Linked DNA regions of Homo sapiens. The protein of the gene in region 1 interacts with the protein of each later gene in a pairwise test. Each region holds a gene or a part of one and is shown in the gene's direction. Other genes may lie near its edges.

Region 1 (3,654 bases):
GCTGCATTTTGTCTAGACTGTGGAGTAGTAGCATCATGGAAGAAAATCAGTTTTCCAGAACCTTTAAGCTGCATGAATGCCTGTCATTTTACCAAGGGAAGCTTAGGATGAATTTTTTTTTCCCTGCCTGAGGTTTCTTTGTACAAATAGCACAGGAGGACCCCAGCCCCACAGCCCCATGCAGATGGCAGCCTGGCGGGGGGTCGCACCAGTCCTGTCCTCACGTTGGCAGATAGAGATATCTACTCTGAAGCCTCTGTAGGGGCCTGGGCACCTTTGGGAGCCTGAGCTGGAACTGAAGCTGGAGCTGCAGCCTGGGCCTTGGTTTGATCCTTGTCCTTGGCCTTTGGCCAGCACACCCTGAGCCCCTTGGCAATGCGGGCACGAGCATGCTTCCCAAGCTTGGGGTGGACAGTGTAGGCAAGTTGAGCTTGCGGCTGACACCCTTTGGGATCTTGGGCTTAACCTCCTTGGGCTTTAGGAGGGCCTTGATAGCCTTGGCATGTGCACTCATGGCCTTGGCACTGTTAGCCTGCATCTTCTTTAGGCCCTTCTTGTTGTGTTTCTTGGCAAACTGCATGTTCCTCAGGAACTTGGGGTCCACCCCCTTAAGAGATTCGTATCTTTGTGCTTCGGGTTTCTTGATACCATTTCTGTGCCATTTTTGGGACTGGTTGTGTGTGGTGTGGTTCTTGGACTTGGCCATGTCTGCACCTTAAGGCGCGGCTCCTGAAGCGCCTAGAATCTGAAGAGACAGGATGAATTTAATACTAAGGGGGCTGTTGTTTAAAGTGGGAAAGTTAGCACCACACATAACATGCATTTAGACACTTAGCATAATTAATTTGTTTATAAATGAATGTATCTGCCCTTTAGTTAATAAAGTTCTATATATGGACTGAGGAGAAAAAGGAGCGAGCATTTTGTGGTGCTATTTTTTTTTTTTTGGAAAGCCTGTATTTGGGGCTATGACCCTTTCTCATTGATAGTGACTTGAGTAGAGAGAGGAAGGGTAGATGGAAGTAGAAGAGCATACAGCAAAGGCATTTGCTGACGTTTCCACACTTTATGCGTATTTATGCCTAATAAATGTTTGTGGAATTAGCATAGCTGCCTGGACCTATTTCAAGCAAAAGGAAACAGGGCTTTAAATGGCTTTTAAAGCTTTACCTTGGCAATCCATAATTACCTTACTGTAATAGATATCTAAAATTTAATACTGTGGGTAAAGTGTTTCACATATTACAACCTTCTTTTTTTAAACTAATGTTAGGTTATAATAAGGATTTATCTTCGTCTTAATTGTAGATAATTATTGCAAGTCTAGGGGCAGTCTAAGCAAAGGAATTATTTTTAATAAAATCAGTGATTGGGCAGAAAAAAATTATGGCTCCCCTAATAGTAGTTTATGAACTTTTTGGAAATGGAGAAGAACAGCTGAAACTTGACAGTTGGCAAAGTCTGTCAAAGTATCTTGGATGTTGCATGAACTGTTAATTGCAGTGAAGGCAACTAAAGTATGGGTTTGTAAAATAGGTGTATCAGATCCCCTAAAAATTAAGGCATTCATGTATGTAAAATGAAGTCTCTGAAAAGTTTTGAAGCCTCAGTGAGGAGCCCCTGTTAGGTATGACCCCCACCCCCACCTCCAAATAGTATCTCATAATGACAGCAGTGAGTCAGTAGCTATTTCAGAACTATCACAGTAGGCAACAGAAATCAAGTAACTTCAACCACTTATTTCATGAAACCCTTTGTTTTTACTTAGCTCATTTTGGCAACCTAGTGCCATCAGCAATGGTAAAGAATTCTTTCCCTCCCTTCCCTTATTAAGAGCTACTTATACATAAAATGGGGCTCTCCCTGCTAATGGAATCTGTTAATGCTGTTTCTGATTTATCTCACCTGCCTATGGGAACTTCTGGAGTCCTTCCTTCCCCTCTTTCCCCAAATAACTTCCAGAAGCATGGAAATGAGTGCTGCTACATTGCAGCCCAAACTGAGTCTCTTTGCTGAAAGATGGGAAGCTGACACCTCCTTCTGCCTCAAACTGCAGGGTTCTGCTCTCTAGGGGTTGTAGCAAAAATGTGAAAATCTTGATCCAGCACTATAAATGGGTTTTATTGCAAAGATAACCACCCTATCATATCTGACAATAGACAACTTAGATGCAAGTCCTTAATTCGTCATTTGTTCATTTTACCAACTTTGAACCTTTGTTATAGTGCGTGTACTTACCTCAGTGCTGCTGATAGGAAGGCCAATACAATGTGCTCCTTCCCTTAGTGAGTTTATACTTTGGAAGTTGGGCAGACAGTCAAGCCTAAAATTAAAATGTGCAATGAAATTTTGTAGGAGCTATAATGTAGGGCATTATGGAGACACAAAGTGTGTGTTGGGGGGGCATTAGCTGCTGAGGGAAGGATAAAAAGGCTTTGTAGAGGAGGTGATAGTTGTTAAATACTGAAAGATGAGTACAAGTGAGCCTCTTAGACAAATAAGAGGGCATTCAAGGCAGAGAGAACAGTGATTGACACCACTAAAACGAGGAACTGCAAAGGAGTTTGGCATGACAAGCTTGTTTGCTTGAGCTAGCTCCCTTTGGTGTAGCAAGAGATAGGTCTAGAGCCTTATTATGCAGGGACTGGGTTGGAGAACCATGTAGATCAAATGAAAGATTGGATTATCCTGTAGTTTAGTGTGTTTAGAGGTTTTTTTGGCTATGACCCGTTGGAAAGATAAGCATCTTTACATTGCAACCCAATATGCTTGTATATAAATGATAAAATGTCACTACATAATACCCTTGCTTTGTATGGTACACTCTGGTAGTTTCTATTCTGTTCCGTTCTATTTTATTTTTAAGATAGACTGATGATGGTGACCCACTCAATTTATTTAATGACGCTGTGTTAGCAACTGGTAATTTGAAAAGCACTTCTCTTCTGTGTGAAGATTACTAAAGGGTTTTAAGCAGAGTAAGAACATGATCAGGGAAGTAGAATAAGAAAGCAATTTTAAAAATCATTTACAATTTGGTTTTGTGTCTTGTATCCTGTGGAAACACCAAGCCAGAACAATGAACTCTGGCTGGGTAGAGGAAGTGGACAGTTGGGCAGGCCCTGGAAGGTTCCGAAGTGGGGAGGGGAGGGATGGTGACTGAGAGATGTGTAGTTGGCTGAACGGGGCTTTTTCAGAATTAGGACATTTCATTGGAGAGGTAAGAATGTAGCAAAGAGCATGGTATGTTCTTAGCAGAGTCACTAACTATGGGTCATAAAATAGTGAATTTGGGAGTTAAGGGGTTGACAGAAGAAACTGTCCTTATTCATAGTTTATAGTTTTGAGTGATTAAACATCTCAGAAGAAAAGGTGGTTATATCCCAAAAGGTCTAACCTCTCTACTGCCATGTGATTTTTTTTTTTTTCAGTCTTTAGTGTTTAGTTGAAGTATTTATTTTTAGTTACTGGATTGTTATTTCAGATTAATATGACTAACTGGACAGAAGAGTAGGGAAAATGAGTGCCGAGTGCTTAATGTTTTCTGATATAATTTTTTTCTGATGTAGTTTTTAAATGACTATAAAACATTTTACATAGATTTATATCTCAGGTCGTATCTCGTGGAATGAAATGTGCAGTTTTTTTGTGTTG
Region 2 (3,654 bases), on another chromosome or scaffold:
GATAGGGAATTTTGGGAAAGGTAATCCTCAGTGTGGTTTGGTGACCCTGGTGCCTTTGCTTTTCAGACTTGTGTGTCGGGGGTGGAGTTGGGGGGGGGAGGGTTGGTTATTCGATTAGGCAACTGTTAAGGGGGTCGCCTGACTATTTCAGTTTTGGAGACTGCTGCGTGAGCCAGTACCAGAGATCTTGGCTGGTCATAGCAGAATATGGCAGCTCTATACCTTGTTGCCTTTCAGTCCGGGTGACCAGAATACCAGCCCACCTCTCTTCCAGTTCTTCTGGGAGAGAGAATCTGATTGGCTGAGTTTAGGTCTCTACTTCTGTTCTAATCATCCATAGCCGGGGGCTTAGAGTCAAAGCACACAAACCTGATCAGCAGATTATCCTGATGGATTGAAGGAAAGGAAGTGGGGAAGTTCTCTGAAAAGGGAAAATGTGGCCTGTGTGCTCAAAGATGGTTACAATAATGTGTTATATATTAGAAGCTTTCAAGGTGCCAGAGAAGAAATTACTCAATTTACCAGTTGCTTATTTATGGCATCTGTGTTGTTAGGAGCTGAAGGAGTGATTAGTTTGTGAATGAACAGATTTTGAATTAACTAGTTGTGAATTAATGTGGGACAAGATCATAAGATTTGATGGCCTGAACTTCTGTCACTGCTGCCTTGCTTCCTCCTCCAAAAATGGTCTGGAGGGCAGGGCTTGGTAGCTCACACCTGTAATTCCAGCGCTTTGAGAGGCAAGAGGATCGCTTGAAGCCAGGATTTCTGGGTTACAGCTAGCTCTGATCTTGACACTGCACTCCAGCCTGAGCGACAGAGGGAGACCCTGTCTCAAACTAGTCTGTAGAAGAGCTAAGCACAGGGATGGAGGAGAGCAGGAGTTGAGTTTCTGGAATCACTTACCTCTTCTTTAACCAGAGCAGCTTTTTCTTTACCCTTCCAGTTGCATATTTCCAATATTGTGGTCTGCTGGTGGCAGTCATTCACAAAAAGGTCCCTGCTACACTTTAACCTGGTTAATCTACTTTCCCTACTTCTCATCACTCAATGGGGAGGAGGGGGATCTATTGTAGTGACTTTTTTTTTTTTTTTAAGGATCTCCCTTCTGTATTCTTCATCCCCTTCTTTTCATGCATTGAGAATTTATTCTGTGTGTGTCTCAGAATGAGAGAGAATGTGCCTGTGAGAATCTGGTTGTGCATTTGGCCTGAGAGAGCCAGCGATGATAACTTTATCAATAGATACTGGGTAAACCAGAACATTTACCAAACTGGGTAAATTTGTTGTGTCATAATTCGAAGATCAGATTTGGGTCTTTCATGCTAAGAAGCCTAAGTAATTCTGTAACAGAAGGTCTTCTGTCTAGAAGGCTTAAGTGTTTGGTTTCCTTACACCTACCAGGAGTCACCATCCTGATAACTTCAAGTGCTGTTAGGATGCAGCAGGAGAATGGGAAGTTAATGGGGGATTTGAGGTTAGAGGTCCTCATCACGCTCCTCTCCCCATTTATTGGGCAGGGATACAGACTAATAGCTATGATAGATATAACAGAATCTTCCATATGATTCAAAGCTATTATGGGATGCAACTAAAATTTCCAAGGCTTCACCTGAGCTCATGTCTATGAAAGCACGTTCGAAACAAAATATATTTAACTTAAAGTGAAATAGGCTGGGCGCAGTGGCTCAAGGCTGTAATCTCAGCATTTTGGGAGCCTGGGGCGGGTGGATCACCTGATGTCACATTTTTTATTCTCTCATTTCCATTTCTCATATTTTTTAAATGAAAGCAATATTTGTGCAGACAGTACTGAAAAAATTCAAAATAGTGAAAGTCTTCCCTTTTCCATTAAATCCCACTCCCATTATGCTTTTAACCATTTTTGTTTGTTTGTTTTTAGGGTTTTATTGTTGTTCCAAAAGTCTAAAAATATACCATGCCTTTCTCTCTATATTTTTTCAACTCAAAAAAAATATTTCTTAACTTTTTGCTAGATAAGAAATTTAGGTCATTTTCCACCTGTCCTAGACTTTGATTTCTATCAGTTACATTTTGGTTCCTAATTTTGCTGTTATTTTTAACTTTTTATTATAAATTTCTGTTTATTGACCTATCACTTTTAGACAGTATATTTGGCCCTTCATGTCTGTGAATGACTTATCTTTGGTTTCAACCAACCTTGGATCAAAAATATTCAGGAAAAAAGGTTGGTTACATCTGTACTGAACATGTACAGACTTTTTTCCTTGTCAGTATTTCCTAAACAGTATAGTATAACAACCATTTCATAGCATTTGCCATATATTAGGTATTGTAAACTAGAAATGATGTAAAGTACGTAGGAGGATGTGTATAGCTTATATGCAAATACTATGCCATTTCATGTAAGAGACTTGAGCATTCTTGGATTTTGGTATCTGCAGGGGACCCTGGTACCAGCCCCCTACGGATACTGAGAGACAACTATATTTCCTCACTTCCTGGTCTTTCAGAAAAAGATATAACACCGATCCCTTTCCTTTTGGGATTTAAAAGCCAAACCTTGCCTTTGTTTTTCCCTCCTCCCTTCCTAGCCTTTGTTTTCTTTTTTCCTTTTTTTTTTGAGACAGGATTTTGCTCTTGTTGCCCAGGCTGGAGAGCAATGGCGCCATCTTGGCTCACTGCAACCTCCGCCTCCTGGGTTCAAGCGATTCTCCTGCCTCAGCCTCGCGATTAGCTGGGATTACAGGCACCTGCAACCATGCCTGGCTAATTTTTGTATTTGTAATAGAGACAGGGTTTCACCATGTTGGTCAGGCTGGTCTTGAACTCCTGACCTCCGGTGATCCACTCCCCCTCCCTTGGCCTCCCAAAGTGGTGGGATTACAGGCATGAGCCGCTGAGCCCGGCCCCAGCCTTTGTTTTTGGTTAGTACTGTTACATTGGCAAGATTTATTGCATTTATATAATGTTTTATAACTCTTCTAAAGTTTTCTGTGCTTCTGCAGGAAAATCTAGAAATTGAGTACTAATAGCCACTCTTTTAAATATGTATGTTGACATGAGTATTAGTTACTATAGAACCAAGTACTGTGGAGCCATAGAGAAACTTCACTTCTGTTAAACCTGTGATCCTTAAAAAGGAAATATAACAAAGTCAGCCGGGCACAGTGGCTCACGTCTGTAAGCCCAGCACTTTGAGAGGCCCAGGCAGGCGGATCGCCTCAGGTCAGGAGTTAGAGACCAGCCTGGCTAACATGGTGAAACCCCGTCTCTACTAAAAATGCAAAAATTAGCCCGACGTGGTGGTGGGCACCTGTAATCCCAGCTACTCGGGAGGCTGAGGCAGGAGAATTGCTTGAACCCGGGAGGTGGAGGTTGCAGTGAGCCAAGATCATGTCATTGCACTCCAGGCTGGGTGACAAAGCAAGGCTTCGTCTCAGGAAAAAAAAAAAAAAAAGAAATATAACAAAGTCCTGGTTGAATGAGGAAAGCTCATTGAAGTTATTTTTAAAATTTAATATTATAATGGGTTCTCATGTTGTAGCCATTCAGCTTGTCTTGGTAGACTTTCCGGAGTCTTGGCCTGCCTTTTCTAATTTGGGAAGCTTAGTAGACCTGTTACCCAGCTGTCATCCTGGGATTACTTCACATTGTTCTCCTGGGTTAGAT
Region 3 (3,654 bases), on another chromosome or scaffold:
GAATTGTGACCTGGATCAGCAGAGCATTGTTCACATTGTGCAGAGACCGTGGAGAAAAGGTCAAGAAATGAATGCAACTGGAGGCGACGACCCCAGAAACGCGGCGGGAGGCTGTGAGCGGGAGCCCCAGAGCTTGACTCGGGTGGACCTCAGCAGCTCAGTCCTCCCAGGAGACTCTGTGGGGCTGGCTGTCATTCTGCACACTGACAGCAGGAAGGACTCACCACCAGCTGGAAGTCCAGGTAATTGGAATGCTCTAAGATTATTAAAGCATTTTGTTTGTTTGTTTAGTGCAGTCTGCATGGAGCATGGCCTCACCGGGTGCATATTTAGTTTATGATACGTTTTGGATTGGAGTCTCTAATTCACTACAAGGAGACATCACTGTAGGTGGAGTACTTTGATGTAACATTTGAGAATGCATTTATTGTAAGTACTATGAAACAGGTTTTCATATTGAGATTAAATATAAGAGATATGTTTCTAGTGATGTAGAAAAATTCTAAAAAGCAGAAAGAACTCTAAAGCTAATCGAGCCATTTGTAGTTTCTAAAGCCAGATATGCCAATGGCAATGACATCCTTAGTGTGAAAGGACTCTTCCTTCTCTCTATGCTACCACCCATTTCAAAATGCTTTTCTTTGGCAAAGATTGTTATTGTTTAGTTATTTTAAAAAAATTAATATGTGCCTCTTAGTCTTTTATTCTCTAATCTAAATAGTCAAAGGTGTAATAGAATTAATTTTTACTGTGTTTGACAGAAGACACAAAATAATCACAATGACTTTACAGGGTAGAAGTTGATTTTCCTCCCACATACAATAGATCCTGGCAGTTGTGGGCTGGTATGGCCTTCACAGTGTCAGAAAGTTCTGGGGCCTGCAAGATGGAAGCCTAACATAATAAGAAATGCCTCCTACTAAACTTACTAAATAAAATTTAAGGAACTTAAAAATTTTCGATGATCTTGCAAAAAATAAAAAAAGATAATTTCCAAGGACAAGTGAAAATGTAGAAACAACATCTTTAAATACAGGAGTAGATAAGCCCAGAAAGTAAGGCATTAACTGATGCTCTGGTGATCTTGAGATGATTGTGGGAGGGAAAGAGGCTCTGCTTCATGTGAGCTGGGCACCTCAGGTCTGGAAAGAAAAATTGAGAAATGGAAATAAATGTCAAAAATGGGGAAAAATGAGATAAATCTAAACCCCTGCAATACTCTTGTGACCAGAATAATATATTAATATAAATATCGAACCCAAGCCCATAACAATTCTGACGTTTCAACCAGAGTATGTATAAGATCATTCTGACACTGACACCTCTAGAGAATACTCATGCTCCAACATTATAAACCAAACAATGGAAAATTCCACCTTGAGTGTGTATGAGACCAGAATATGCCACCCCAAAATATGCCACTTTAGCATAAGTATTATTTTAAGCTGATTATTTTGAGAAACAGTAGACACAGGAAAAGCTCTAAAAACAGAGTAGAAGTGACCCTTTTGTAAGGGAAATTTATATCTACCAAGGAAGTCTCCATTTGTAAGGGTGTCTCCCTCTCCTTACTAGGATGAGGAGGACAGAGTCTCTGGAGACTCTGATCCTTGAGAAGGCACCAACTGAATAATCTGCCTAACAAACCTTACTCTTGTCTTCTCCTCTCCCTTTCTTCCTTTGCCATTGAAGATGGTATTCAAGCCTGAATTTTAGGCACCTCTTTGAGATTTATGCATTTTTTCTGGGTGTCTCACATGTACAGTTGTCCCTCCCCATCAACAGGCAATACGTTTCAAATCCCCCAGTGTACGCCTGAAACCAAAAATGGTACCAAACCCTATATTTACTATGTTTGTTCCTGTACAACTGTATAACAGATTGGATTTATTATGTTAGGAGACCTATCTACTAGTTCTTTAATTTGATTTCCCAAAATAAAATTCTTACTAAAAATAAAAAAATCACATTGTTTAGAGCAAAATTAAACCTTTACTTATTATCTGAATATTAAAAACAATTTGAGCACAAGAATCCTGTTGTGTACATATTCATGTTCTTTAATACATTTCCTAGTGCATCTGGCTCTACTCTCTTATCAACCATATTCATCTGAAAATTTTAGTCTTCTTATTTTGTTTTATCATAAAATTGCCCTTGGTCTTCTCCAGAATTTTCTTTTATGAGAATGAACTTAGAATTATTGACACTTTCAACTGACTCTCTCTCTCTCTCTAGACCATAATATTTTAAGAAAATATAGTATTCTCTCTATATAGGGTCTGAAGTACCAGTAGGCACTGAGAAAATTCTGCTAAATGTCTAATATTCTCTTTATATTTTTAAATTGAAATGTGTGATTATTTCAACCCAAACAATAGAGAATAAATTCTAGTAAATTTATGGAATGTGGTAAATGACAGCAGCCTTCAGAGTACTGTATGATCTATGATGATGCGCTGTTTCACCTTGACTTTCCACTCATGTCTGAGTCACATCTAACCTCTGATCACCCTGTTTCTCATTTACCCCTCTGTCTTGTGGCCTGCCAGCCTTGTGCTTTTGGCAGGCTAGGGACTGGCTCAGGCAACTCTACATGGTGCAGTTGGGGGCTGCAGGGTTGCCATCCTAACACTTCTCCCTGCACCACTACACACTGGGGGCAACTTCCTGGCACCCTACATGCTGCTACTAAAAGGCCTCTGTAAAGATATGTTGCATCTGTAAAGATTGGGAAAAGAGAGATGGTGCATCCCAGGTCAACTTTCAGATTTAACTCTGTGTTAAACTAACAGCTAAACTACAAGTAATCCTCTCCTGCTCATTAGAACTGGAGGGAATCCTTTTCAGAACTCTTAGGACTCTCCCTTATTACTTGCTATTTTGTACTCCAGTTCTGACTTCACCTTTTAATCTCTTTGAGGATGGAGTTTTTGTCCAATTAACTGTAGTTTTCCCCAAAATCTCTTAGAAGAGTGGTGATACATGTTTACTAAATTGCTTCAAATTGTAAACATAGTCAGTCATTCAACAGAACTCCTGTGCATTTAGCTTTTAGAGCGAATGCTTTATTTAAAATTATACAGAGAAATTGAGATTTCATCTCTTCAAATGTCTTGGTTCATTCTTGGTTTGAGTTAAGACTGAATGGAATGATTTGAAATGACTATATGCAAACAGTATGCCTATATGATTATTTTTCTTCACTAAAAATGATAGCGTAAAGTTACTAGAGCAGAGATTCACAGACTCTCATGTGCAGAATTATCTTGCATGTTTTTCCATGTTTCTTTGATGGCCAGAATGGCGAGAAAAAAAATCTTCTTTCATTCTTTTTCTGTGACCAGAAATTTTGATGTATTTGTCTGGGGGTAGAGGCCCCAAAATGTTGGTACTGACCATACTCTGAGAAACTCTGCCCTATGGCTAAGGTTTTCCAGCCTTACAATTATGGATCCTACCTGTTGTTCTCACGGAACAATCGGACGCTGGGTGGGAGAACAGAGGCAGGTCGGTGAGAGGTGAACACACCAAGCCAATCACAGCAGCCTGAGACCATTCCTCTTTACGTACTTCACATATTAAACACATAAAACATCTATCATTTGAAAAGATGAAAAAAATCCTTGGTTATACAATGTTTGAAAACCTGTG

What was found.
Region 2: the proteins of HOMER1 (region 1) and PIAS2 interact in binary tests that used the Homo sapiens proteins (3 or more experiments, as listed by UniProt).
Region 3: the proteins of HOMER1 (region 1) and PRKN interact in binary tests that used the Homo sapiens proteins (3 or more experiments, as listed by UniProt).

Annotation. Positions count from the first base shown.
Region 1 is NC_000005.10:79,507,486-79,511,139, reverse strand, and holds part of HOMER1 (homer protein homolog 1), read left to right. Parts: intron 1-122; exon of another isoform or gene 123-753; intron 754-3,654. UniProt on the Homo sapiens protein: Postsynaptic density scaffolding protein. Binds and cross-links cytoplasmic regions of GRM1, GRM5, ITPR1, DNM3, RYR1, RYR2, SHANK1 and SHANK3.
Region 2 is NC_000018.10:46,911,003-46,914,656, reverse strand, and holds part of PIAS2 (E3 SUMO-protein ligase PIAS2), read left to right. Parts: intron 1-3,654. UniProt on the Homo sapiens protein: Functions as an E3-type small ubiquitin-like modifier (SUMO) ligase, stabilizing the interaction between UBE2I and the substrate, and as a SUMO-tethering factor.
Region 3 is NC_000006.12:162,259,113-162,262,766, reverse strand, and holds part of PRKN (E3 ubiquitin-protein ligase parkin), read left to right. Parts: intron 1-1; coding exon 2-242; intron 243-3,654. UniProt on the Homo sapiens protein: Functions within a multiprotein E3 ubiquitin ligase complex, catalyzing the covalent attachment of ubiquitin moieties onto substrate proteins. Substrates include SYT11 and VDAC1.